Homo sapiens: one gene and its partners. The protein of the gene in region 3 interacts with the protein of the main gene of each other region in a pairwise test. Each region holds a gene or a part of one and is shown on either strand. Other genes may lie near its edges. The genes, in order: DMRTB1, KLK6, TOX and GRAP.

Region 1 (5,618 bases), on a different chromosome or scaffold from region 3:
GTCTCTCCCACTAGATGTCATGTTCCTCATGGGCAGAGCTGGGAACTGTCAAGTTCTGAATCTAGTAGAAACACAGGATGTTTTCTAAATGAAGGTATAAATGCAACCAATGGAAGAAGCCGAGGACCCTAAAACAGAATTGGTTCAAGTTCTGTTTTTTTAAATGCATGTTCCTATGCAGGGACTATGGAAGGAGCTGGAGGAAGGAAACTAAGACATCTTTACATTTTGTGTGTCTACATCAGATTTCCTTAAAAGGTCTCCATTGCTTAAAATAACAACAGTAATAATAAAGAAGTCTACTAGCCTGGCCCAATCCCCTCACTTGATAAAGAAAGGGGAGGTAGAACAGGGAGGGCAGGAACTAAAAATAGGAACTAAGCAAGTGCAGACAAGGCCAGCCACAGGCCACAAACCAAGGCCCCCAATCTCCCCAACTCAGGCTCCTGCCAACCCTACCTTCCACCAGGATCAAAGGGAGAATAAGCCTTCCACAAGGATTTCCATTGCTCATTTTATTTCAATAGCCAACTGTCCTCACAGAAGAAACTGTTCATGTCACAGGTGATCAGAAGCACCATTCTATTCCCTAGGGACTGCATCAGTGCTTATGAACAGCCTACTTTTTAAAGTTGGCAATCACTATAAAAACATCAAATAGTCAAACTAATAAATTTTTTAAAACCAGTGCCCATAATGGCTGAAACTTTATGGAGGGGGAATGAAGTAGCCCCAGCAGCCAGGATGCTTGCTAGTAAAACCCCTTAGAGGAGGGGCAAGGGGCTGTGGCCAGGAAGATGTGGGGGACAGAGCAGCAAGGCAGGATGCTGCAGAACCTGCTGTCAACGACCCTGGTCCTGGCTGCTGGCTCCAGCCACCTGGATGAACTGGAATCTTGATGTCTGTGGTGCCCCCAGCAACCTGGAGGACCAGGCAAAGGCAGCAGAAGGCTGAAATAGATGGTGCCTCCTGTCCTAGAGTGGGGCCTGAGGAAATCAAATACTGCCTCTGGGGCTTGTTCCAATAAATGGTAGTGTAACCCAAGGACAGTTAAATTCATTCCTAAATGGGAGCTTCTCCCAGCGCCCACTCCTCAGAGCCCTGGCCCTCCCCTGGTAATAGCTTCCTCCACACTCTTCTTCAACTGTACAGCGCAGGATTGAAACTTAGAAATTGCTCTCCTTCCTCCTATCTTAAACTGGGAATCAGTTGCCATCTATGCTATCAACCTCCTTCCTCCCTACATATCACTGAATGAAGACAAGAAAACTGTTGCTGTTGCCCCCCAGTGCCCCACTCTGCTGGCCAGGAGGGCGGGCCTGGGGCCTAGTCGGACTGCTCCTGAGACGATGGCTGGCTGGGCTCACCCGACAGTACCTCTGCATCCTGGTCATCTGTGAAGGACAAAGAAGGTAGCTGGATTTAGAAAGAGCGAAAATTACAACTACCTATTTGCAGATGAAGATTTTCTTTTTTCTTATTTTATTTTAATTTTTTTGAGACAGAGTCTCGCTCTGTCACCCAGGCTGGAGTGCAGTGGTGTAATCTCAGCTCACCGCAACCTCCACCTCCCAGGTTCAAGCAATTCTCCTGCCTCGGCCTCCTGAGTAGCTGGGATTACAGGCACCCGCCAACATGCCCAGTTAATTTTTGTATTTTTAGTAGAGACAGGGTTGCCCCATGTTGGCCAGGCTGGTCTTGAACTCCTGACCTCAGGTGATCCACCCACCTCACCCTCCCCAAAGTGCTGGGATCACAGGTGTGAGTCACTGTGCCCAGCCCAGATACAGATTTTCCATAAGCCTTTCTCATCATTCCCAGCCCTAGGGGAGAATGTATTTTCTTTAACTTGTTAGGCGCCAGGAGCCTGGAATCCTAGCCTTGGCCATGTGATTCAGATTCAAGTTCCAGCTCTTGCTCTGCTCGTCACAAGCTGGGAGGAATTAGCAAGATACTCCACAGCTCTGAACCTCAGCTTCCCCTTCTGTAAAATGAGACGTATCCACCTTGCAATGGCAGCATGGGCACTAAGTGAAACAGACAGTGATAGGCCACCTTCACCAATGCCTTCATCACTTCAGGTTCTGTTTAATCCTCAGAATCCTCATGAGGTAGGGACCATTATTAGTCTCCTTTTACACATGATGAAACTGGAGCACCAAAGAGTAAATGAGCTTGCTCAAGTTACACAGCTGGGCAAGTGCTGGAGCCAGGACTCACACCCAGGCCACCCAGCACTGGGGCCAGTGGTTTTCAGCCACATGAAACCACCTCTCCAGCTACTGGATCTAGGCACTGCACACACAGGAAGTGTGCAACAGGCCTCAGTTTCCTCTTCAGTAAAATGGTGATACCACCAGACTCCTCTAGCTCATAAGATGGTCTGACAGTCATTTTAAAGGCCTAGTTGAGTTTGTCAGTTCTTTCCAAATCATAGGAGCCCCAGGGGAAGACTGAAAGGAAAAATGTCCTAGAAGCTTTAAAGCTGCAAGGGCCCTCAAAAGAAAACCCAAAACATTTTCACATCCAAAAGTTTCTTCGACCCTCACAGTAACCTAGTAAGGGGGCCCCTTTTATAGTTGAAAAGCCTCAGTGCCCAGGATCATCCAGTGCCCCAGTGGCAGAGCTTGTGAAGGACAGATTCTCTAGCTCCTGGTCTGGTTCCCTCAGAGTGGCCTGGGGCAGAGGCACAGCCCCACCACACGGGTTCCTGCTGCTGCTCCAGTCTCTCCATCTGCTCCCCTACCCCAGCTAGAGAGGCCTGGCACCTCTGGTCTTCCAAACACACCATATGCCTGCTGTCTTCCACAGCACCGCCCACGAGCCAATAAGGTGAGTGAACAGGCACTAGACTGGGAGCTAGACTGAAAAACTCTGTTCAAATCCCAGCTCTGCCATTTATACCCAAGAGAACTGCTGGAGGCCCTGGTTTCCTCACCTGGAATCCCATTCCCACCTCCCTTAGATGTGTGCCTATGGGGACTGGAGGAAGGGTGTAAGAAGGAGCTCATTCTAGGGCTCAACACCCTTTAAATTCCATGTCCCTTCTCTCCACACCTAACCTTTCTTCAGATTAGGTACCTCTTCCTCCAGAAAGTCTCCCTGGCTCTCGCTGAAGCTGGAAGACTGGAGCTCACTCACCAGTGTTCTCCTTGTCAGTATCAAACAGGACGGTCAGTGAGAAAGATGATGGAGGTGGTGGTGGCGGTGGCGGGGGGAGGAAGTGGAGCGCAGAGAGGTAGCCTGGCGGGAGGAACTGGGGCTGCGGTGGAAGCGGTGGAAGGGGCGGCAGTGGCGGCGGCGGCGGCGGCAGGTAGTAGCTTGGCTGGAAGTCTCCTCCTGGTTCTGACACCTGCACGGCACACACAGCAGAGAGGCGGAGAGGAGAGAGAGTTAGCCAGATGGGCTGACCAAACATAGCTCTCACCCCTGAAGTGGGGGGCTCCTGATGGGGTAGATGCACGGCCCCAAACACACAGGCACAGGGCATTTGGAAGGGGGCATTCAGCAAACACCTGCCAAATTATTGAAGGCAAGAAGGAACACAGGCAACCTCAGATAAGCATGGGAACAGCTGAACGGTCACAGTGACAGAGCCCTTCTGTATATGCCAGGGCGATTGTGCTTGGGTGCTCAGAATCCTAGGCGGTGGGTTCTATTACTATTCTTGCTGTAATTATGAAAAACAGGTTCAGTGAGATGAAGCTACAGGCCCAGGGCCGCAGAGCTGCTTTGTGGTTAAGGGGCAGAACTGGATCCCAAGTTGGCTGACTCCATAGCCCACTCAGCTGACTTCTGTCCAGCGCTGCTCTGCACTGGGGAAGGGTCTGAACGCATCCCAACCCCACAGGACCCCCTGTCTGGCACATGTGGTGACTTAAACTCAAGTGCCAGGGGGGCCTTTGGGAGAAGAGGTTGGCAATGTGGGTGTAGCGCAGCTGTTTCTGAGGCAAGATACACTGGGTGACTTCAGGCAAGTGGCCTCACTGATGAACATTTTGCTGCTTCTGTCCCTTCTTCAAGGGATGGAATCCAACCCCTTACCACAGCACAGGGCCCCATCAGAGGATCTGGAGAGGGGATGACTGCACAACTCAGAGCTTAACCAAGAAACACACAAATGTCGTAAGAAATAATACTGAGTTTTGGATGTAGTTCCTGTCATTCACTTCTCTATCCAGATGCTTCAGAGCAACACATCCTGAGCTGAGTTTCATGGAGTCCTGGTGTCCTACAAAGTATTTTTTAGTACTCTTAAAAGTGTTCTTTGTTAAGTGAGTTTGAGAAACCCCATATACTGCTCCCCACATTAGTGGGTCACACATGAGCATATTAAAGGCTTGGAAGAGTCTGCAAAAATCTCCTTAGATTAACCCAGCACTTCCTAACTTCGTTCAACCAGCAGGAAGGGAAGAAATCTCACTTTTAAGTACCTACTATGTGCCAGACCCTGTGCTAGGTATTTTACATGCATCGCCTTATCTATTCTCAGGAGCCCTAATAGATAGGTCCTCTCACTCCCATTTTACAGACCAAGACCCGAGTGAGGTCCTCAGAGGTCAGATAACTGCCACGGGTCACGTGGCTGGGACACGACGGGGGAGGCAGAATTGGACCCTAGGTCTGCCCACCTCCAGGGCCAGTGCTGTCCTGTGAACAGGAGGGCAGAGGAAGCCAAGCAGCAGCAGGTGGGCAGGGACAGGAACAGGAAGGAGGAAACTGTTCTGGAGAGCACCTCCAAGCCTTGGCAGGGGGCAGCAGGACAAGGATGAAAGTGATTCAGGGGCTCTTGGGTTTGAAACAGCTCACAAATCAATGCCTGATTCTCTCTCCAGACTTGAGAGGGTGGAAGAGGGATTATTAGTGCTTTAATTCCAAGCTTCTCAGCCAAGCATCTCCCTGGATCACAGCTCCTGCCTGGGGCCTGTGGTGGCAGCTCAGGCCCAGATAAACCGACTGAGATCACACTCTTAACAAAGGCCGTCTGGCAGGCCTGTCAATCAGAGCGCTGCCCTGGACGCCAGGCTCCAGACTTCTGTGTGAGCAGACGGAACGTGCTTTACTTGGCCAGAGCCCCTCTCTTTGTGTGGAGGCTGGAGATGCCTGGCTCTCCCTGGGCAGTGCCCACAGATGTCAGGCAGGCAGCAGTGCTGGTGTGAGTCAAGGGCCATGTGTGTTCTACCTCTGTGGGAGGGAGGGAAGGGCAGTGGAAAGCACCTGGGCTCCAGAGTCAGGGCGACTGAGGTGCACGACCCGGCTCTGTCACCAACCAGCTGTGTAACTGGAATCCCAGTCTCTCTCTCACCAGTTTTGTGACCCTGGCCAAAAACTTAACTTCTCTGAGCCTTTTTTTCTCGATGCTACAATGGGGTATAATACCTGCCTTGAAGGTTCAATAGACACCCTGGAATTATCAAGGCCAGTGGCTTTCAAACTTTCTTCCCTTGAATCAGTGGAAAATGATTTTTAAGCACAATCTCACAACATCTAAGATAAGTGGAAGAGAAGCTGCTGCCGCCAGGCTGAAGCAGGAGTGAGGACCCAGTGACCTGTGTGCCCAACCTGCCCGGGTGAAGCTCGAGCCCCATTGGACTGGCTCCACACTGTGCAGCTAATGA
Region 2 (7,028 bases), on a different chromosome or scaffold from region 3:
GAGAGCAAGAAAGAGAAACAATTTAAGAATGGAGACTGAGAGGTGTGGAGAGAGGCAGAGGTGTAGAGACCGATGGAGAGAGAGGAGGAGGAAGAGGAGAAGGAGGAGGAAGAGGAGAAGGAGAGGAGGAAGAGGAGGAGGAAGAGGAGGAGGAGGAAGAGGAGGAGGAAGAGGAGAAGGAGGAGGAGGAGGAAGAGGAGGAGGAAGAGGAGAAGGAGGAGGAGGAAGAGGAGGAGGAAGAGGAGAAGAAGGAGGAAGAAGAGGAGGAGGAAGAGGAGGAGGAGGAAGAGGAGGAGGAGGAAGAGGAGGAGGAGAAGGAAGAGGAGGAGAAGAGGAGGAAAAGGAGGAGGAGGAAAAGGGGGAGGAGGAAGAGGAGGAGGAGGAAGAGGAGAACGAGGAGGAGGAAGAGGAGAAGGAAGAGGAGAAGGAGGAGGAGGAGGGGGAAGACGAGGAGGAGGAGGGAGAGGAGGGGGGAGGAGGAGGGGGAGGAGGAGGGGGAGGAGGATGGGGAGGGGGAGGAGGATGGAGAGGGGGAGGAGGATGGGGAGGGGGAGGAGGGGGAGGAGGAGACGATAAGACCCAGGTGGGAGAGGTAGGGAGGGCCCAGGGAGAGATATGCCTGGCACTATTCTGTCCAGGGACACCTCTCCACCTCGTGTCTTGAGGACAGTCTCGCCCACCTGCCCTTTCTTTGCGTCCAACTTGCTATGTATCGCTTTCCCTGTCTCTGTCCCTGTTTCTGCCTGTGTCTCCGTTTCTGCCTGTGTCTCCCCCTTGGTTGGTCTCTGCACATCCCTCAGTGCATTAGTCATTCTGGCATAAAGAGGAGAGCCTGGATGGATGACAATGGAGGAAACCCAAGTTAAAGTATTCGGGAGGGAGTCCCCTTTCCCCAGCTAGTGTCTCCCTCCTCCAGAGCCTGGTCGTTTCTGAGCAGGACTCGTGGGGGCTCTGTTTGAGGAAGGACAGTCCCCTCACACCATCTGCTTCCTTACTACTTCTCTTTGGTTCTTTTTGTTTTTAGACAGAGTCTGGCTCTGTCCCCAGGCTGGAGTGCAGTGGCGTGATCTCAGCTCACTGCAGCCTCTGCCTCCTGGGTTTAAGCAATTCTCCAGCCTCAGCCTCCCGAGTAGCTGGGACTACAGGTGTGTCCCACCATGCTTGCGTAATTTTTGTTTTTTGGTTTTTTTTTGAGACGGAATCTTGCTCTGTTGCCAGGCTGGAGTGCAGTAGCATGATCTCGACTCACTGCAACAACCTCCGCCTCCAGGTTCAAGTGATTCTCCTGCCACAGCCTCCTGAGTAGCTGGGACTACAGGCGCCTGCCACCACGCCCAGCTAATTTTTGTATTTTTAGTAGAGATGAGGTTTCCCCATATCGGCCAGGCTGGTCTCAATCTCTTGACCTGGTTATTCACCCACCTCGGCCTCCCAAGGTGCTGGGATTACAGGCATGAGCCACTGTGCCCATCCTAATTTTTGTATTTTTAGTAGAGATAGGGTTTCACCATGTTGATCAGGCTGGTCTCGAACTCCTGACCCCAGGTGATCCTCCTGCTTCGGCCTCCCAAGGTGCTGGGATTACAGGCATGAGCCACTGTGCCCATCCTAATTTTTGTATTTTTAGTAGAGATAGGGTTTCACCATGTTGATCAGGCTGGTCTCGAACTCCTGACCCCAGGTGATCCTCCTGCTTCGGCCTCCCAAGGTGCTGGGATTACAGGCATGAGCCACTGTGCCCATCCTAATTTTTGTATTTTTAGTAGAGATAGGGTTTCACCATGTTGATCAGGCTGGTCTCGAACTCCTGACCCTAGGTGATCCTCCTGCTTCGGCCTCCCAAAGTGCCGGGATTACAGGCATGAGCCGCTGCTCCTGGCCTCTCTGGTTCTTGATCCCGCGGCCTCCATCCTTGTCTCTGCACTTCCTGTCTCTGCTGGCTGTGTCTTTATATCTCTGCATATCCCTGACTGTGTCTCTGTGTGTTGAACTAAGTCTCTTCTTTTCAAGGCTTGGGTTCTCCCTCAGCCTGTCTCTATCTGTCTCTGTAAAGCTCTCTTTTGGCCTGTGTCTCTCTCTTCCTGTGTCTGGCCATGTTTTTGTGACTTCGTCCTGTCCCTGGCTGTGTAAGTGGCAGATCCGGGTCACCTCACCTGGCAGGAATCCTTCCCGTACTTCTCATCCCCAGCACACAACATGTTCTGGGTGATCTGGCCAGGGTAGGCATGCTCACACTCCTCACGGGACACCAGGTGGATGTATGCACACTGGATGGTGTCAGGGAAATCACCTGTTAGGGGAGAGATGGGCCAGACTCAGCCCAGGCCTTGCACTCCCCTCATCCTCCCCAGTCACCCCCCAACCCCTATAAGTCCTCCATCCTCTATTGGTCCCTCTTTTCTATTGGCACCCCTCTTCCTGTTTGTCTCTCATTCTTACATCTCATTACCATCGTCCCTGCCTCCTAATTGGTCCCTCTTTCTATCATTCTTCCCCCCCATTGGCTGTCTTCCTCATTAATAGTCTCTTCTCCAGGAGTCCTCATTTCCTATTGGTTTTCCTTTTCTCTTAGGTCCCTCCTCCACTTTTCTCTCTTCCACTGGTCCCACCTTCTTCAGTAGTTTCAGTTGACCTGGAGGACTCTTCCTCTGTTACGCCCTCCTCTACTGTACCCCTCCTGATCAGTAGTCCATTCTTCATTGGACACTTCCTGCCCATTGATTCATCTTGATTGGTCACTCTGTGACCATTGGTCTTTTCCTAACTGGCCATGCCCTCTCCCATTGGTTCTTCCTTTCTATTGGTTCTTCATCCAATGGTCCACCTCCATCATTGGTCCTTTTCTAACTGTCCCCACCCTCCCTCATGGATCCTCCCTTTCTATTGGCCCTTCCTCCAATGGTCTACCTTCCTCATTGGTCCTTTCCTAACTGGCCCTGCCCTCCCTCATTGGCTCTCTCTTCCTATTGGTCTGCTTCCCTCCTTGGTCCTTTTCTAACTGGCCTCACCATCCCCCACTGGCTCTCCCTTCCTATTAGCCCTTCATCCAATGGTCCACCTCCCTCATTGGTCCTTTTCTAACTTGCCGCATCCTCCCCCATTGTCTCTGCCTTCCCACTGGCCCTTCATCCAATGGTTCACCTTTCTTATTGGCCCTTCACACACAGGCCCACCTTCATGGATCCTGCTGATCTATTGGACCTGTTTTTTCCTCTAGTGACTCCTCTGGACCATTGATCCTTTCCCCTTAGTCCCTCTTCCATCAGCTATACCCCCATTCACTGTCTCAATTCACATCCTTCAGTTGGCTTTTGTGCTTTATTGGTTTCTCTTCTTCCATCAGTTCCTTCTCCATTATTCCTTCCTGCTGTTCAATGAATCCTGATCAGTCCCCTTTGACCTTTGACATCCTTCCTGATTAGCATCTCCCCACTGACCTTCCCTCTTTATTGAACCTTCATCTTATGTTCCATCTCTCCCATGCTATTCACCCATTGGTCTACATTTTCCATTGGCTGTTCACTCACTGGCCCAGCTCCCAAATTCACTCTCCCTCCCCCTTGACCTTTCTCCCATTGAAACCCTGTCCCATTGGTCCTCACCATTAGCCCATCTTCCCATGGCCCCTCACCAATTTTCCCACTCCCCATCCTTTGGCACACTTCCCCAAGTAGCCAGTAGCCTGCTCCCCACCAGCCTCCCACTACTGACCATCTGCTGTCTTGCCCCAGCCCAGGATGTGGCAGCTGGTGGTGTTGGCTGAGCAGTCCCTCTCCAGGGGAAGGGGCTGGATGAGTTCAGAGAGTTTGGCTGGGCGTGCCAGGCGCAACAGCATGATGTCCTGGTCATGGCTGGCGGCATCATAGTCAGGGTGGATCACAGCCCGGACAACAGAACTCTGCTCCTGGGAACTCTCCCTTTGCCGAAGGTTATGCTTCCCCAGGAAGACCTGAAGATTCCTGGGAAGGAAGAGGGCTGGGTCTCACCTGGAGCCCTTGGGCTGCAGTTGAGGCTTCAGAGAGGGCTGGGAAGTCATGAATCGCTGGCCTGCTCCTCCCACAGTCTTCCCCAGCTGGGTAAATGGCAATTCCATCCTTTCAGAATAATCTTGGGGGCTATTCTTCACTCTCTTTATTTCATGCCCTACATCCAAGCTGTCCAGAATTCCTTTTGCCTCTCTGAAGCATATCCAGAATCTGGCCACATCTCACCTTTCCCACGGCTACCATCTTGGTTTGAGCTGCCTTTTCACTTCCTACCTGAACTAGAGCAGTAGCCTCCTCACTGGGCTCCCTGCTCTGTCTCTGGTCCCCCACAGTCCATCCTCCACAAAGCAACCAGAGATATTTTAACAATGTAAGTTGGTCCTGTGCCTCCTCTGCTCAGCCCCTCCTATGACTCCCATCTCACTCAGAATCAAAGCCAAAGTTCTCAACGTGGCACACCAGGCCTTGCAAGCACTGCCCCATCATCTCACAGACATCTTCTCCTCCCACTCTCCCCTTCTCTCCCTCTGCTCCAGCCAAACGCTGGCTTCCCTGTCTTGCCTTGAACACAATAGTGATCTTCCCACCTCAGGGCCTTTGCACTGCTGTTCCCTCTGCCAGCAAGTCTGTCCTCCAAGTATCTGCATAGCTCACTCCCTCACTTCCTTTAAATGTCGCCTCTCAGGGAAGCCTTCCTTAGTTGCCCAATTAAAATACAAATACCTGTTAGTAGGCAATTCCTATCTCCCTCCCCTGCTTTCTGTTCCACCAGAGAACCTATCACAATCATCCGACCTGCTATATATTTATTGTTAAATATTTACTCATTGTGTTATTTCTCCTCCTTGCAGAGCAATGCTGTCCACTAAATGCTACGATGCCATGATCTCGATCTGCACTGTCCAGAGGTGGCTGGGGGAACCACAAGCTACAGGTGGCTGCTGAGTACTTGAAATGTGGCTTGTGGATTTTCCATTTCATTAATTTCAATGTAATTTGCTATATGTGGCTGATGGCTACCATATTAGACAGTGCAGCTCTAGGATGTCAAGATGGGGATTTTTGTTCTATTCAGATATAGTATCTCCAGTGCGTTGATCAGCACCTGGCACAGGATAGGTGTTTGATACATATTCCTGAAACAGAGAGTCACTCCCTTGCTCAGACATCACCCATGGCTCCCCATTGTCCTAAGAATAAAGCCTGGGCTCCTCCACTTGGCACTGGAGCCCCTGTGTGATCTGGCTGTAGTCACTTTCCAACCTTATCTCCCAGCACCTTCTGCCCCCCAGTGAACGGGAAATTTTATTTTCTGAGAATACTCAAGACGGTTCTCACCTCAGGGGTGTTATCACAGCCTTTCCTCTGCCCTGAACATTCCTTTTCCCATCTTCATGCCTCCGCTTGGATTTTATCTCATTAGAAAGTCCTTCCTGACCCTCCTCCATCTAAAGTAGGTACCCGTATTCTTTTCCTTCATAATTTGTAATTATATGGGGTTTTGAAGGGTTTGCTTCTTTTGTTTGTTTGTTTTTTTGAGACAGGGTCTCGCTCTGTCACCCAGGCTGGATCTGCAGTGGTGTTCTGTAGATCACAGCTCACTGCAGCTTTGTACTCCTGGGCTCGAGTGATCCACCCGCCTCGGCCTCCCAAAGTGCTGGGATTACAGGCATGAGCCACCACGGCCAGCCCAATTTGCTGCTTCTTTCTTTCCTTTTTTTTTTTTTAGACAGAGTCTCGCTCTGTGGTTCAGGCTGGAGTGCAGTGGCGCGATCTCGGCTCACTGCAACCTCCGCCTCCCACGTTCAAGCAATTCTCCTGCCTTAGCCTCCCAAGTTGCTGGAATTACAGAAGCCCACCACCACGCCTGGCTAATTTTTTGTATTTTCAGTAGAGACAGGGTTGAGCCATGTTGGCCAAGCTGGTCTCGAACTCAGGTAATCCACCCACCTCGGCCTCCCAAAGTGCTGGGATTACAGGCGTGAGCCACCATGCCCAGCCCTCACTTTGCTTGTCTGCACCTTTCTGTCCTTGTGCTCCCGAGGGCAGGGATGACGTGTGTGTCCCATCCATTGCTGAATCTCCACTGCCCAACTCGAATGTGGCACTTAGCAGGTGCTCTTAGTCAATGTACATCAAAGGAATGAATGATGGTGGTGAGAGTCATCCAAGGTCTCCTTGGGGTCAGGGGAACCACCCCAGGGATTGTCACTTGCTATTTCCCTGCACCTCAGTTTCCTCATTTGCAAAATGGTGCCAAGAGTCCCTTGTGGTGGGCATTCCAGGAAAGGTGTGTACATGGTTTCACTCAGCACCTGATTGGTAGTTAGCATCAAACAAGTGGCAGCTGTCGTGAATCTGACTAGTGAGGATCAGCGCCCAGGGTTTTTGTCCTGGGCCCTCCAGCTCCTCCAACTATGCCAGCTTTTTGGATGATCTCATCTAGTCCCATGGCTTTAAATACACCTGTTTGCTGACGATGCCTTCATTTTAACCTCCAGCCCTGACCTCTCCTCTGAGCTCCAGAGTCCTCCCTGGCCTCCCTGCTGGGACATCTCCCCGGCATCTCCAACTCATCGTGGCTAAAGCAAAATGTCAGATGCTCCCCTGCCTACACCCGGCCTGTTTCTCTTTCCCTCTCCCACAACTCAGAGAAAGACGTGGCAAAACACCCAGTTGTTCAGGACAAATACACGGAAGCCAGCCGTGCTTCTTCCTCTCCCTCCTGTTCCTCGTTGCCAGATTCTGCTGGCTCAGTCTCAGAATTCCACATCCCAAGATATTCAACATCCCTCCATCCCCACTGCGACCGCCTGGGTTCAAGCCACCCTCCTATGTCGCCGGATGAAAGCAACAGCCCCCACGTGGGCCTCCCTCCCTCTCTCTTGCCCAGACCACGTTCCACGTGGTAGCCAGGGTGCTTGTAAAAATGTAAATCAGGCTGGGTGTGGTGGTGGCTCATGCCTGTAATCCCAGCTCTTTGGGAGGGCGAGGCGGGCGGATCACCTGAGGTCAGGAGTTCGAGACCAGCCTGGCCAACAT
Region 3 (7,028 bases):
GATGGCATAATGCCACACGAACTCACCACTTGTAAATTACATTTTACAGAAAGCAGATATTTGTTGAATATCTTTAGTGCTCTCTTGACTTAAATAGAAGGATAGAAAACACATATCCCCAATCCTGTCCTGGATAAACAGCTCCCCCCACCTCCACCACCACACTTCAGAATAGGGGTGCACACTCTAAGTCCAGAGCCATTGCACTTACTTGCTGCATGGTGGGTGAGTGTAAGGCAGACTGGACCTGCATGGGGAGCTGGTTCCCAAGGGGCTGCTGCATGGTGAGCGGCTGGTGCTGCTGCATGTTGAGATGCTGGTGAAGAGGCGGGCTGATCTGGAGGGGAGGAGGAGGGGACACAGCCATGTTTGCTATAGAGACAGTCACTGGCATTTGGTTATTCGGCTTGGGGGCTATGTTCCTGGGGAGACTAGGATGCATGGCAGTTAGGTGAGGATTCATTCCCGGTTGTTGGTGATAGTGGGAACTTAGGTACAGGGCCGAGTGGGCCTGGCTGGGCCCATGGAACACCGACGGCTTCGAATTGATCAGCTGAGGAGGTTGAGATGTCTTCACGTCAACAGGTTCACTGTAGCTCTGTTGAGGAAATAAATGAGCAGAGTTGGGAGGCTGATACATGAGTGTTGATTCAAGGTATGACGCTTTGTGAGTTTATTAAAGCACCTTCCCTGGAATCCATACCCATGACTATCCCGGACTCTCTGATCTAAGAATTTCTTCACCATTATTTGTAATGTGATTTATAGAAGACAGCTTCTATCCCTTTTAGGAAATTGAAAACAATCTGCAATGACATTTTGTTCCTTTGCCTAAATGTTTTTAACTCGGTGACTTTTCTCATTATCCAAATGAGGGTGACAAGATGGGTTTGTGGAGGGTGGGGGACGGGAGAAGGCAGATGCCGTGAATGCCCAAATGGGAAACACACGTGAAGATTACTTTCAAAGCAAATCAGTTCTGGAGTTCTTCTATAGATTATAGGTTTAGTTTTTAATTTTTCCTTTTTTATATTCTCAAAGAGACTTGGCCTAGATATTTGCACAAAGAAAACAAAGCTGGTTGATGGAAATGGATATGGGAGAACAGAGTTCTAAAATACCTTTCTGAAGTCATATAAAACTACATTAATATACTCTTCAAAGTAACTGCAGAACTTATCCTGAGTTTTAAAATGAAGTTGGTGATGAATTGTCCTCCATAATGAAGTAGATAAAAATAATCTCTCTTAGAAATTTTAGACTCCATCATAAATTAATATAATTTTGCCCTAATTTTTTCCGCACCTTCATATGATCATTTCCTAATAATATTTTAATTGATTTTAAAACTGAACATTTCAGTAAAGGCTGAAAAGAATCAAGAATTAACCCTGTGGCAATTCCTCATGGGCCTGAACCTACCTCCTACATTTCCTGAGAGGAAGAGACTGATAAAACAACCAAAGGTAGCAGGTAGAACCAACTGGAAGGAAAAAAGTGATAAAATGGATTGGAGAAAAAAAATCACTTTGTCAAAACAAGGTCTTGAGGACGCATATATGCTTTTACTCTGCAATCTCAATGTCATGCTTATTCAGCTTTCAAGTCAAAGTGAGTTTCTTACTACTTTCCACACTGCAGGGAGAACTGTGCCATGAGGGCTCTCGGGGTCCTTCTGCTCAATGCACCACCGGGCAACCCACTGACAGGCCCTTAGAGAAACGGGTTCATCATGCACGACAGCGTGAAACTCAGGCCGGGTAGCTTCATTATCACCAGGCAGCTTACATTACGGTTAGCAACACAACTCATTTGTCTTCAATAATGCAGTCAAGTTTCATGAAAACCACAGTAAGAATGATGCTGTGTATGTCTGCTGACTCCTGGGGTGACGGGGACAGGCTGGGGTGGGTGGACGATCAGCCCCACGTTCTGTCATTATAGAAAGGACACATCTGACACCTGTAAAAGTATGCCAAACCATGGAAACCTGGGGTCCTGTGAGACTCTGAATACTCCACGCACAGTATAAAGTAAGGTGTACTGAAATAATTCCAGCCCCTTTGGAGAGTCCTCTCATTCTGACATTTTCCCCTGTGTCACACTGTTGATGCAGCTTTCTGAAATAGGAACAAACATATAGACTCCCTGTCTTCAGTATTAACATTAAAAACATCAAAAACTGTTCATGCAAAAATTTTAAGGGGAGGTTTTAGATCAAAGAAGCTTTATTAAATGTAGCTCCTAAGAGGTGCTTTTCATTAAAAAAAAAAAACAAGTTTTAAGTAGATTTTTTTTGGCTTCCATTTAAAAATTCTTATTGTTGATGTGCAAAATAGTTAACAATTCAAGGAAAAGGTCAAATGGGTTAATCGAGCCTGTGTAAACAGTGACTACTTCCACATCAGAATAACATGTACTGCAATTCATATGCCTCAAAAATTATTCCGTATATGCCAGAAAGATTATGTGTTAAGTCTGTGTGTTTAAGTAATCTGGAAAAGTGTTCGGTATGTTTGAATTCCCTCTTTTTAGCCTATTGCAGAAGGGCTAGTTTCATATTTAGTCACAGACTGTGTTGACTTCATACCAGAAAGAAATCATATTTATAAAAATGGATACATATTGGTGCATCTTTATTTTTTGCTTTATAGGTGTTGTTTTTAATTTAAAAATAATACAAGTCACTCACATTCTTGTATGATCAAAAGTAGAAAATATGTGTAACTGTAAAAATGTTTTCATTTTTAATTTCTATATATAACATATTACTAGATAATGAGGTAAGTTTTGGCTAAAGAAATAAAAATATCGAATTCAAAATAAACAATGAATTTAATTTTCCTGAATTCTACTATTTAAATAATTGTATGTGGTCCATCATATAGAGAGATGATAGATAAGCAGAGGTAGAGATGGAATAGATGTACAGATTTACAGAAGTGAACAGATAGCAACCTAATTTGAGATACTTTATTACCAACCTTGTAAAGCTCTCTTTTTTCATGGATAATTAAACACAAAACATTTTCTCTATCTAGCCACTTATTTGTCATTTATGTCCTCCATATCAAAGCACACAAAGACCAGTCCCCCTCAACCTACTTTGAAAGAGTAGTAACTTTTAATCACTAGAATAACTATTGGCAAACTCAAAGTAAATAGAGTTCCAAAGATAATGATTCAGACAACACTTGAAACATAATTTTTAACATAGAGGGAGGGAGAATTTGGGGAAGTTATATATATTTTCCCTTTATTTTCTAATCATTGACTGTGACAACAGAAATAACGTATCCAGCCTTGTGCCTGAACGTGGCAGGTGCTCCAATATAAGTTATTTTCCTGTAGTCTCTTTTCACAAAGATGTCCTGATTCCTCCAAAAGGGCATCTTTTTTTGATGGTAGGGACTTGAATTTCTGTAGCCCACGCATCTACCATAGTGCAAAATACATAAAAACACAATTATGTTTTCTAAGGAGTGAATGACTATTCTTGAGCAATCCTCCAGGCAGCCACCATTGCCCTTGCTGACTTGCCCTCTTGACCAGACACACCGTTCCTCTTCCCATGGAGTGAGGAAGGATCTGAAGGCTTGGAAAAGCCACAGAGTATTAGATTGACCTTCCTCATGCTCTTCTCTGCTCTCGGCAGGACCCAAACCCTTCCTGAAGTGATGAGAAATTACAGCTTTCCGCTCTGTCCTTTGGTTAGATACACTGCCCTTTATGCCTCACTGGTCTTGGGGGAATGGCAGTAGCAGGGCAGCTAGTTCAGTCTCACCCATACTTTGGGAATTTGTATGTTTATGTAATGGTCCACTCATTTAGATGAGGAAAAACCTGCTTCTGGCTTCGCTTTTCATTAATTATTAAGCAGTCTAGTACAATAGACCATCTATTAATTACAGAGTTATTTTATTGTTCTGGAAGATAGGTAGAATAAGTTCATTTTCAGTGGCAAACTGCCATAAATTCATAATGTGATTAAATGAAAATACATAGAAATCATAATGTACTCTTACTGTCATTTTTTCCCAATTTAACTGTGAAAGCAAGGCTACAATTTTGCTGATCAATTATATTGCATATGAAGACTTCTATACCTATCATTCAGAAATTAGAACTATTTTCTCATACATACTAAGTAATTTGCATTTGTTTCCACTTTTAAACACATTAACCACTTTTATTTAGCAATGAGTGTCATGTTGGTCACCTGACAAATGTGTTTCCTAGCTTGTAGACAACTGAAAATCAACCTTTGAATCCCACACTTTCACAGAAGGAATGTGTTCTTGCTGTTAGTTTCTGAGTATGTTCTCTTTCCTATTTGCATTTAGACGACAGATTCTGGAAGATATTTTCTACAAGCCATAAAGTGGGGGTCGTGGCCATAGAGACATTTTGAGTATTATCTGTAGGGAGTTCCTTTGACATATGCAAAATGTATAAAGGATACAACTCTATAAGCCTGAAGATACCTTTTACTAACCAAATTGTTGATTACTGAAGGTAGCTTCAATCCCATTTACTTTGTATAATGAAGATAATACTGCATAGTGTATAAATTTCCCCATTCTGGGATGATATGTGCTATAAAAATGAAAGATTGACAAAGCTATTGTTATTTAAAATAGCAAAGTATAAATACAATGCATAAAAATCAGTGGAAGGAACAATATAAGAGTTGCTGAACCAAATCAAATTAATAGTCCATCTAATTTGATTCTTGTTTTCAGCACTGACCGATACTTAATGCATTGAAAATTAAACAAAATTTATGCACCTACTCAATTGTGCATTGCTCCTTCTGGAAGGAAAATTCTTTCTGCTCCATGCAGGTGATTAACTTATACCCTGAAGCATGAGATTTTATTATCTTTAAATCACGATCTGGGTTTACAGAGCTGCAAATTTTACGTTAACAGTCATACAATGATCCATCCCATTTGCAAATTCAGACTCAATATTTGTCTCCATAGCTCACCATGGCATGGTATCTGTAAGTTTGCCTCATTCTATAAAAAGAAACTGTTTTTTTCAAATCCACTTTCCTTTAATTGAACTAAGCATTGTGCTTCTTTACTACTGACTATGGAAACAGAGAACTTTCTTGACTTAATTCAATATTGTCCTGTTCTGTACGTTAAAAAAAAAAAAGGTTTCCATTTGTCCTTTATAAATTTTAGCACTTCATGAACTATTCCTTAAGGTAGAAACAAAATCTTATATTTGATGTTATGACCTTAAAATCATGAATCTGATTGCCTTTATTTAATAAACCAGAACATAGTTATCCAAATGCCATATCCTTCCAGGTTGGCAATCCTGAGAAGTTGTACACTTATTTCAATAATGCTGCCTTTATTTGGGATATTTGGGAGCTTCCCTACTGGAATTCTCTTCAGAGCCTGTGAGACACTGTTTTACATATCCTCAGACAACTCTTTGTCTTTTGATGGTGAATTTGATTTTTGGAAACAGCTAATAGTCACTTGAAGCCAAGTCTGCGGGTTATATCTGGGTGATGTTTGGGGAAAAGAATGAGGTGTGAAAACAATGTAACAAGATTGATTTTCTAATGTGGCTCATAAACTTTTCCTGACTACAGTTCTAAAAGAGGAGTTTCAAAAATTTTTTGAACTCTGGGAGCAATAATAAAATGAGTTTGCAGCCTCCCAAGGTGACTACTTTGAATGCAACACTCATTTTGGGAATATAAATTCTGGTCTATGTGGTAAAATGAAACTAGTTCCATTGCTCTATAGTTATACATTGTTTTCAGCATAATAATTTAGATCCATGTCTAGGAATTCCCGAGTCTATGGAAAAACTATATTTCCTTAAGCTTTATTTGACAGTCCAACCCCATATGACCTTCAATAGCGTGTAAAATTGCTTAAGATGGGAAGGCCAAGCCTCCATAATAGCATATATCCTTGGACCTCTTTGCAGGGTTCATAAAGATCATTTCAATTAAGAAAACTATAGATGAATGCATTTTTGTTTATATCTAGATCATATCTTTATAAAGAAATGCATCTATGATGCAAAATTTTCCTTTTTAATGTCACTTTTAAAATTTCCTTATATCAAAGTAGCCTTTGATATAAAGACAAATTGAAAATATCATCCAGCTAAATTTTCAATGATATGCAAATCTTTCCCCCCTCCTTTCTATACCTACTAATACTAAAAATAAAATTAATAATAATACTCATAGCTTATATTTATTAAGTGCTTCCTATGTTCAGGATGCTGAGTCATGCTGTTTATTTTTTAAATTTTTGAATTTTAAAAATTTTAATTGTATTGTGATAAGAACACTTAACATGAGATCTACCATCTTCACAAATTTTCAAGTGTACAATCCAGTATTGTTGACTCTAGGTCCAATGTTGTACAGCAGATCTCCAGAGCTAATTCATCTGGTTTGAGGAATGCTTTCTGCCTGTTGATTATTGACTCCCTATTTCCCCCTCTCCCAGCCCTGGCAACCACCGTGCCACTCTTTGAGTCTATGAAATTGACTATTCTAGATACCTCCTATAAGTGGAATCATGCAGTACATGTCTTTCTGTGACTGACTTATTTAATTTAGCATAATGTCCTCAAGTGAACCATGTAATTTGTATAGATTTGCTTATTTTATCCTCATGGAAACCCTAAGATGTAGGTCCTATTATCTTCTCTGTTTAACATTTGAGTAAATGGAGACTTAGAACATACAAGGAACTGCATGAAGATATGCAGTTAGGAAGTGGGAAACCTGGGATTCGAATCCAGATCCACCCGCCCCAGAGACTACAGACTCCTCAGTCTGAGGACTCTCCCAGTATGATAGAGGTGGCACTTTTTAGATGTCCTAGAACAGGCTTCCTGTGATTCCATATGAAAGTGCAGAGGTTGAAGTTGCCTTAGAGGCCTCCAATCCTTATTTATAACATTTGCTTCTGCTTTTAAGTTTCTCTATGGAAAGAAGTTGTTTAACAATTCAAGAGTTTAGCAATGTCCCCTGTTCAGAT
Region 4 (7,784 bases), on a different chromosome or scaffold from region 3:
TTTTTCTTTTTTTTTTTCTTTTTGAGATGGAGTCTCACTCTGTCACCAGGCTGGAGTGCAGTGGCGCAATCTCAGCTCACTGCAACCTCTGCCTCCTGGGTTCAAGCGATTCTCCTGCCTCAGCCTCCCGAGTAGCTGGGACTACAGGTGTGTGCCACCACGCCCAGCTAAATTTTTGTATTTTTAGTAGAGATGGGGTTTCACCATGTTGGCCAGGCTGGTCTCGATCTCTTGACCTCACGTTAACTGATTTCTTACTGTGAACATTGTTTGAAAGCCCCAGACCCTCTGAGACCCGGGAATTCTCACAAGGGAGAGAGGCCAACTCCTCCCTGGAGGAGTATCACTGCTCAAGGTGAGAGGCAGAACTTGGCCTGCCCCTGAGCCTTTGCCCACATGGTGCCCTCCACCCAGGCTGCCGCCCCACTTTACCATCCCAGCCCGATGCAGTTGCTGCTTGATAGTTGTTTACTGAGCACCTACTGTGTGCCAGGCACCCCACGACAGAGCAGGGAACAAGAAGCTCACATTCTAGTAGGCAGAGACAGACCATAAACAAGGGAAGAAACAAATAAGCAAGGTAGTTTAATGGAGCAGTAAGCGCTGTGAAAAATGGACATCAGGTGACAGATGGAGAATGTCTGGTTGGGTGGGAGCAGGGAGATTGTCAACACGGGACAGGTGGGGTGGTCCAGAAAGGCCTCTCTGAAGAAGTGACATGGAAGCTGAGACCCGAATTACAAGAAGGAACCAGCGGTAAGAAAATGTGGGGAACAGTGTCCAAGACGGACGGAACAGCCAGTGCCAAGGCTCTGAGGTGGGGCCAAGCTCTGTCCCTGAAACAGAAAGGAGGCCAGGGTGTCTGGAGCTGAGGGAGGGAGGAGCAGATGTCATAAGATGTACGGGGGAGGACCAGGCTCTGAGTCATGGCCACTGCATGGAGACTGGGCTGGGGAGCAGGGATTGTTGCGGGGAGGCCTTGGGAGCCACCACGCAAGCCCAGGTAAGTGACAATGGAGGCCTGGGCTGGAGGAGGGGCTTCGGGTAGGTTTTGCCAGAGTTGCCGACAAGACAATGACAGGCAGCAGAAAGTAGGTTCAGGGAGCCCAGGGCTGGCTGTGTTGGGTCTGGACCGTCGCCCTTTCCCATGGAGATGTCAAGGTGACATGGGCTTCCTGAGTCTGGGTCTCATCATCCAGGCTGCTCGTGCAGAGATGGGAGTGAAGCCACTAACCACATGCCCCTCCAGCTGGCAACAGCATGGGGGTGCGTGCACCCAGAAACGCCTGGCCTATCAGGGAGGGAGGCTTTGTCCCAGGGAGGTGATGTTTGGGGCCATTTGTCCAGGGTGAGTCCATGAGCCAGAGTTTTCATCCAAGACCAAAGTTCAGATTTCAAGAACGGGCTTCATCGCCCACTCTCCCAGGCTGGACTCAATCTGTAGGCAGGCAGTGCCATGGCAGGGGCTGGCCCACAGGGAGCACTGGAAAATACTTGCTAGACGAGAGGACAGGATGGTCGCGGAGCTCAGCTTCCACCCCAGCCACTTGATCCCTCCAAGCCTGGCTCAACGCCTCCCGCGCACCCCATTCCTATTTCATCACTGCCCCACTCCCTCCCAACACCACACTTGGGTCTAGAGACCTCGAAGTGCTCTCAGATGAGAAACCAAGACTTGGATCCCCGCAGAGGGTCATGCCTTGGGCTCACAGCCCCAGTGCTCAGCCTGGCCCTGTCCCCATCTGGCCACATGTCCACGAGGCCGACAGCCAGCACTGCAGTGACCCCAGGTGCCAGCACCAGCACCCCAGCATAGAGAAGAAGGAATTGCTCCTCCTCCTCTGGACCCCAACCCCCAGCCCAGCCTGTTCAGACCAAGCGCAAGTTCCACAGCCAAAGGGACACGGGTTCAAAACTGACTCCATACCGAGCAGGTCATGTTGCCTCCCTGTGCCTCAGTTTAGTCACCTGTGAAATGGGGGTGCCAGTCCCCATTGCTTAAATGGTACATGAGGTGTGCTGCTGAGTTCGGGGCCTGGCTATAGCAGGGTGATGGCACAGGGAGCTCTCCCGTCTTGTGCTTGAAGCTTGTGGCCAAGGGCAGCGCCCAGGGCTCAGCGCAGAGGAGCATCCAGTCTAACACCCATTGCTCCAGTGGGGAAACTGAGGCCCAGGGAAGGGCAGTCACTTCCCTAGTGTGGTTTACTGGCAGTTCCAGTGCACACGTCTTGGCATGGCCACTCCCAGAATCCTGGGCATGGCTTTCATATGCAAACTTTTAAGCAAGGACATTTCCAGAGACACATTCCACAGGCCCAACTGTCTAGACCGTCTTGGAAGGCTGCAACATCTGTCAAAAGCGGCCCAGACAAGGAGAAATGAACGGTGGTATGACTCTATTTTCCCTTTTCTCCACACTACTGGGAAGCTCATCCTTGACACTTTCATCTTAGCTATTTTAGCCCTACTAGGTTAGCATGTGTACTTATTTCTTTCCTAAGACCTTCTCTCTCTCCCTCTTTCTCGCTCTGTTCTCCATTCCCATACTCTGTCTCTCTCTCTAGCTCTCATTCTCTCCCTCTCTCAACAATTTTCTTTTCAAACTTTTTCCTGGAAAACTGGGGGTTGAACTAACTCCTGCCAGACACTGTGGTAATATCTCATCGAATCCTCACAACAGCCCCAAAGGAGGGTCATTAGTTATCTCCCCATTTCCTAGATGGAGAATCTGAGGCTCCGAGGGAAAAGGTGGCTTGTCCAGAGTCACACAGCCAATAACTGGAGAGGCTGGGCCTGTCTTCCAGGGGCCACAGTCTGCTTGGGACAGTCCCAGGTCCCTGGTTCCTAAATCCACCCCCACCCCGTGTGGGGCCAACTCAGCAGGCTCCAGCCCCCCTACCTTGAGTGTGTCTCCCTTGTTGAAGGCCAGCTCGTCGCTCTCTGTAGCCTGAAAGCTGTACAGGGCCACGGACTCCATGCCGCTGCTCGGGGCTCCAGCAGCTGGGCTCAGAGCTGGGCCGACAGCTTCCTGCTTCCTCTGCAGTCGAGGACGGTCTTCCTTTGTTTTGAGTGCGCGTTTGTTCTTTTGAAGTTGAGACTGAAACTGCTCCTGATGGGGGAGAAACAGGAAACAGACATGTCACAGAGCAGGGAGGGCTTGTGAGCCAGCTCTGTCCCTACCTCAGACCCCAGGTGCCAGGAATGGCCCTTGGGGAGTCTCCCTGAAGCTCTGGGAGTGGGGCCCCCTTGTGCCCATGTTTTATCATCCGTAAAAGTGAGGTGCCTGGAGGAGAAGTGCCAAAGCTGTCCTGCTGGCTCAGGCACTGAGTCTCATGGCACCAGATGCTGGCCTCCCTTCACCAATCTGCCAATGACTCTCCATCTTTTCCTAAACCCTGATGCCTCTTGTGATGCCCTGCCTCCTGCTCCTTCAATCCCAAGCTCCTCACCTGGCATTCAAGGCCCTTGCAATCCACCACCTCCACCTGCCCCTACAAACAGCCCCCATTCTCATCCTTTGTCATCCCCTTCACTCTAAACAAACCCAGGGCTTCAGCCACAGCAAGGGGCCACACCAAACTCTCATTTCAACCCCAGACTTTTGCACACGTGGTTCCTCTGCCTGGTGTTCTCCTCTTTCTGCTCCCAGGAGACTCCTATTCATCCATCAAAGACCAGCTCAGAAGGTACCTCTTCTGGTTTAGACACTGGGCACCTTAGGTGGGACTTAAATCCTAAGGTCAACAAGACTTGTAGGTCGGGCGCGATGGCTCATGCCTATAATCCCAGCACTTTGAGAGGCCAAGATGGGCGGATCACTGGAGGTCAGGAGTTCGAGATCAGCCTGGCCAACATGGTGAAGCCTCATCTCTAATAAAAATACAAAAAATTAGCCTGGCATGGTGGCATGTGCCTGTAATCCCAGCTACTGGGAAGGCTGAGGCACAAGAATCGCTTGAACCCGGGAGGCAGAGGCTGCAGTGAGCCAAGGATCCATCCAGGCTCCAAGCAATCCTCCCACCTCAGCCTCCAGAGTAGCTCGGACTACAGGTGCCCACCACCATGTCTGGCTAATTATTTGTATTTTTAGTAGAGATGGGTTTTCACCATGTTACCAAGGCTGGTCTTGAATTCCTGGACTCAAGCGATCCTCCTGCCTGAGATTGCGCCATTGCACTCCAGCCTGGGTGACAGAGCGAGTCTCCTTCTCAAAAAAAAAAAAAAAAAAAAGAGAATTGTAAATAAATCTCTACCTTTCCTTAGTGGGTTTGTTATGAGCAGTGTTATCGGTGTAGCAATTCTGAAACTGTTTTGCAAGTGTTGCAGGATAGCGCACAAATGGACAAGCACAGCTGTATTGTTTGGAACCAGGGTTCTCCCTGGGAAAGAAGGGAGACACAGACGTGGAAGGAAAACCAGGCAGAGCCCTGTGGTGTTGCATGGACACTGGATGAATCAGTGTGAAGTCACATTGTTTTTTTTCTGTAAAGAAGTTTTTCTTCCTTCATTTATATTAATATAGGCTCATGGTTTCATATTTTAGCCAGTGGATTATAATCCATTACTATTACATTTATTTTGATGCTTAAAATGCCCCTGATTAGGCCAGTGGGGTCTCCTTCAAGCTGTCTCCTTATCCTTTTGACATGGACCCATCATTCTATGAACACACCCTGACCTTCTGGCCAATAATAGAAGAATCGCTTGAACCTGGGAGATGGAAGTTGCAGTGAGCCGAGATCGCACCATTGCACTCTAGCCTGGGTGACACATCAAGACTCCATCTCAAAAAAAAAAAAAAAAATAGTTGAGAGGGAAGAAGAGAAGATGACAGCTGCCCGCCGCCCACTCTGGAGTCCCTGAGCCAACCAGGCAGGATGGAGCTGGCCCTGGCCTCACCCAGCTCCATTCCAGGGCTTCTCCACGCTGCCCTCTACTCAAAGACCCCTGCCTTCTGGCTGCCCCCGACCCCAAGGGTGACAGGATGTTATAAGGCCCCTCTTTCCGGCTCTGTTGCAGCTGAGGTTTCAAAGCCTCAGAATGATGCAATGGAGGGGTTGGGATCGGCCCCCGCCTCAGTTCTGAGGTGCTTCTAGCCATATGAGGGGAGGAGGACTTCCCCTTATGAAGCTGAATGGGTGTCCCCTGGGGCGGTGGGACAGATGCCGGGTTTATTTTTATGTGTTTTAGAAGTATTTATTCTCTGCCAAGTCCTTTACAAAGAGGTAAGTGACCAATAGTTGGTAGGTGGCAGGGCTGGGGTTCAAACCCAGGCAGGCCTGAGGGCCAAACCATGCCTACAACTCCTTCGCCGCATGGCCTCAACCCGAAGGATTCCTGCCCAAGGTGGCTCGGGCCAGAGCTGGGAGCCTGGGCTGCCTACTGTACAGTGAGCTCAAGGAGTGCAGTGAGGTAAGCAGCAAAGCTTTGTTGGAGGGTAAATCTGCCCTGATTCCGGGAGACCAGAGAGGACCCCACAAATGGGACTTGACTGAGAGGACCCTTGAAGAATGCAGCACCCCAAATGAGGCAGACGCTGGGGCCTGGAACGAGGGGCCATCGGAAACTGGAGGCTTGGGCCAGGCGCGGTGGCTCATGCCTGTAATCCCAGCACTTTGGGAGGTCAAGGCAGGCAGATCACTTGAGGCCAGGAGTTCGAGACCAGCCTGACCAACATGGTGAAACCCTGTCTCTACCAAAAATACAAAATTAGGCTGGGCACGGTGGCTCACATCTGCAATCCCAGCACTTTGGGAGGCCGAGGCAGGTGGATCACCTGAGGTTAGGAGTTTGAGACCAGCCTGGCCAACATAGTGAAACCCCGTCTCTACTAAAAATAAAAAATTAGCTAGGCGTGGTGGCGAGTGCCTATAATCCCAGCTATTTGGGAGGCTGAGGCAGGAGAATCACTTGAACCCAGGAGACGGAAGTTGCAGTGAGCCAAGATCATGCCACTGCACTCCAGCCTGGGCGACAAGAGTGAAACTCCATCTCAAAAAATGTATATACAAAATTAGCCGGGAGTGGTGGCGCACGCCTGTAATCCCAGCTACTTGGGAAGCTGAGGCAGGAGAATTGCTTGAACCCAGGAGGCGGAGGTTGCAGTGAGCCGAGATCACCCCATTATACTCCAGCCTGGGCAACAAAAGAGAAACCCTATCTCAAAAAAAAAAAAAAACAAAAAAACAACAAAATAAGGAGTTTTGGAAACCAAGGTTTTATTATGCAGATGAAGCCTCCAGGTAGCTGGCTTCAGAGAGAATATAGTGTAAATGTTTCTTATCAGACTGAAAGAGTCCGTTCTAACAGTAATTCCAAAAGCGAGGAGGTTATAACAAGGCATGTCCAGCTCCCCCTTCCCATCATATCCTGAACTCATTTTCAGGTTAACTTTGGAATGCCCTTGCCGAGAGAAGGAGTCCATTTGGATGGTTAAGGGGCTTAGGATTTTGGTTTTGGTTTATGGAGGTCCCTCAAAAGCTGCTCACAGGAGGAAAACTCATCACTGGCCACAGGCCACACCAGGCCAGGGCAGACCCAGCCACTGTCTCAGTGCTGAAACCCTAACCCCCTGTGATCAGCTGAGTAACAGCCCCGAAGACATCCAGGTCCTGATCTCAAGAACTTGGAACGTTCCCTTATATGACAAGAGGGACTTTGCCGGTGCGATTATGTTAAGGGTCGTGAGATTGGATGGAAACTGCAATTTCAATGCAGTTTGAGTTCTGTAATTAGTAGACTGGGCTAGACTACTGGACCCTGGAACACTCCAAACAGGCTGATTGGGGAACTTTTTATCATCAGAGATTGGCTGAAACACCTGAGAGAACTCCCTGAAAAAAAATTTTTTTGAGACAGAGTTTTGCTTTTGTTGCCTGAACTAGAGTGCAGTGGCATGATCTCAGCTCACTGCAACCTCCGCCTCCCTGTGTCTACTTGAAATACAAAAATTGGCCAGGCATGGTGGCGCACGCCTGTAGTCCCAGCTACTTGGAAATAGAATCACTTGAACCTGGGAGGTGGAGATTGCAGTGAGCAGAGATCGTGCCACTGCACTCCAGCCTGGGTGACAGAGGGAGACTCTGTCTCAGAAAAAAAAAAAAAAAAGAAAGAAAGAAAGAAAAGAAAATGAAGAAACAGGCCAGGCATGGTGGCTCACACCTGTAATCCCAGCACTTTGGGAAGCTGGAGCAGGAGGAATGCTTGAACCCAGGAGTTCAAGACCAGCCTGGACAACATAGTGAGAACCCATCTCTACAAAAATAAACAACAACAAAAATAGGCCAGGCATGGTGGCTCTCACCTGTAATCCCAGCTACTCAGGAGGCTGAGGTGGGAGGATCGTTTCGGTCCTGGATTTCAAGGTGATAGTGAGCTATGATCACACCATTGTACTCCTGCCTCTGAGGACAGAGCGAGACTTTGTCTGGAAAAAAAAAAAGAAAATGCAAATGAAGAAACATGGATTCATGAACATCTATGAATATTTGGTTTAAAAAGGTGAGGCCATGGTGTTTGCACTGAGATCATGGCCCCTCTTGCCCTTCCTCTCAGCTCAGTGAGGCTGAGACTCCACTCTGGACAGCTGCAGCCAAGAACATGGGGTCCCCTGCTGCCTCCAGACCAGGGAAACAGGGCTCCCTCTGCCCCCAGCTCCCAGTGGGAGGGCTTGCCTCCCACGAAGAACAGGACATCCATTTCCTATTCTACCCCCAGCCACCTGTTGCTGAGACTAAGTCCTGGATGAGTGTAGCCAAGAGTTGGGGGCCCCCTTCTTGCACCCA

Evidence for each region.
Region 1: the proteins of TOX (region 3) and DMRTB1 interact in binary tests that used the Homo sapiens proteins (3 or more experiments, as listed by UniProt).
Region 2: the proteins of TOX (region 3) and KLK6 interact in binary tests that used the Homo sapiens proteins (3 or more experiments, as listed by UniProt).
Region 4: the proteins of TOX (region 3) and GRAP interact in binary tests that used the Homo sapiens proteins (3 or more experiments, as listed by UniProt).

What each region holds. Positions count from the first base shown.
Region 1 is NC_000001.11:53,462,371-53,467,988, reverse strand, and holds the end of DMRTB1 (doublesex- and mab-3-related transcription factor B1), read right to left. Parts: intron 3,353-5,618; coding exon 3,142-3,352; intron 1,395-3,141; coding exon 1,327-1,394; 3' UTR 501-1,326; downstream 1-500.
Region 2 is NC_000019.10:50,959,591-50,966,618, forward strand, and holds part of KLK6 (kallikrein-6 isoform A preproprotein), read right to left. Parts: intron 4,921-7,028; exon of another isoform or gene 4,838-4,920; intron 4,077-4,837; exon of another isoform or gene 3,966-4,076; intron 3,960-3,965; coding exon 3,712-3,959; intron 2,291-3,711; coding exon 2,154-2,290; intron 1-2,153. UniProt on the Homo sapiens protein: Serine protease which exhibits a preference for Arg over Lys in the substrate P1 position and for Ser or Pro in the P2 position.
Region 3 is NC_000008.11:58,815,127-58,822,154, forward strand, and holds part of TOX (thymocyte selection-associated high mobility group box protein TOX), read right to left. Parts: intron 599-7,028; coding exon 212-598; intron 1-211. UniProt on the Homo sapiens protein: Transcriptional regulator with a major role in neural stem cell commitment and corticogenesis as well as in lymphoid cell development and lymphoid tissue organogenesis.
Region 4 is NC_000017.11:19,043,950-19,051,733, forward strand, and holds the start of GRAP (GRB2-related adapter protein), read right to left. Parts: upstream 3,009-7,784; 5' UTR 2,978-3,008; coding exon 2,900-2,977; intron 1-2,899. UniProt on the Homo sapiens protein: Couples signals from receptor and cytoplasmic tyrosine kinases to the Ras signaling pathway. Plays a role in the inner ear and in hearing.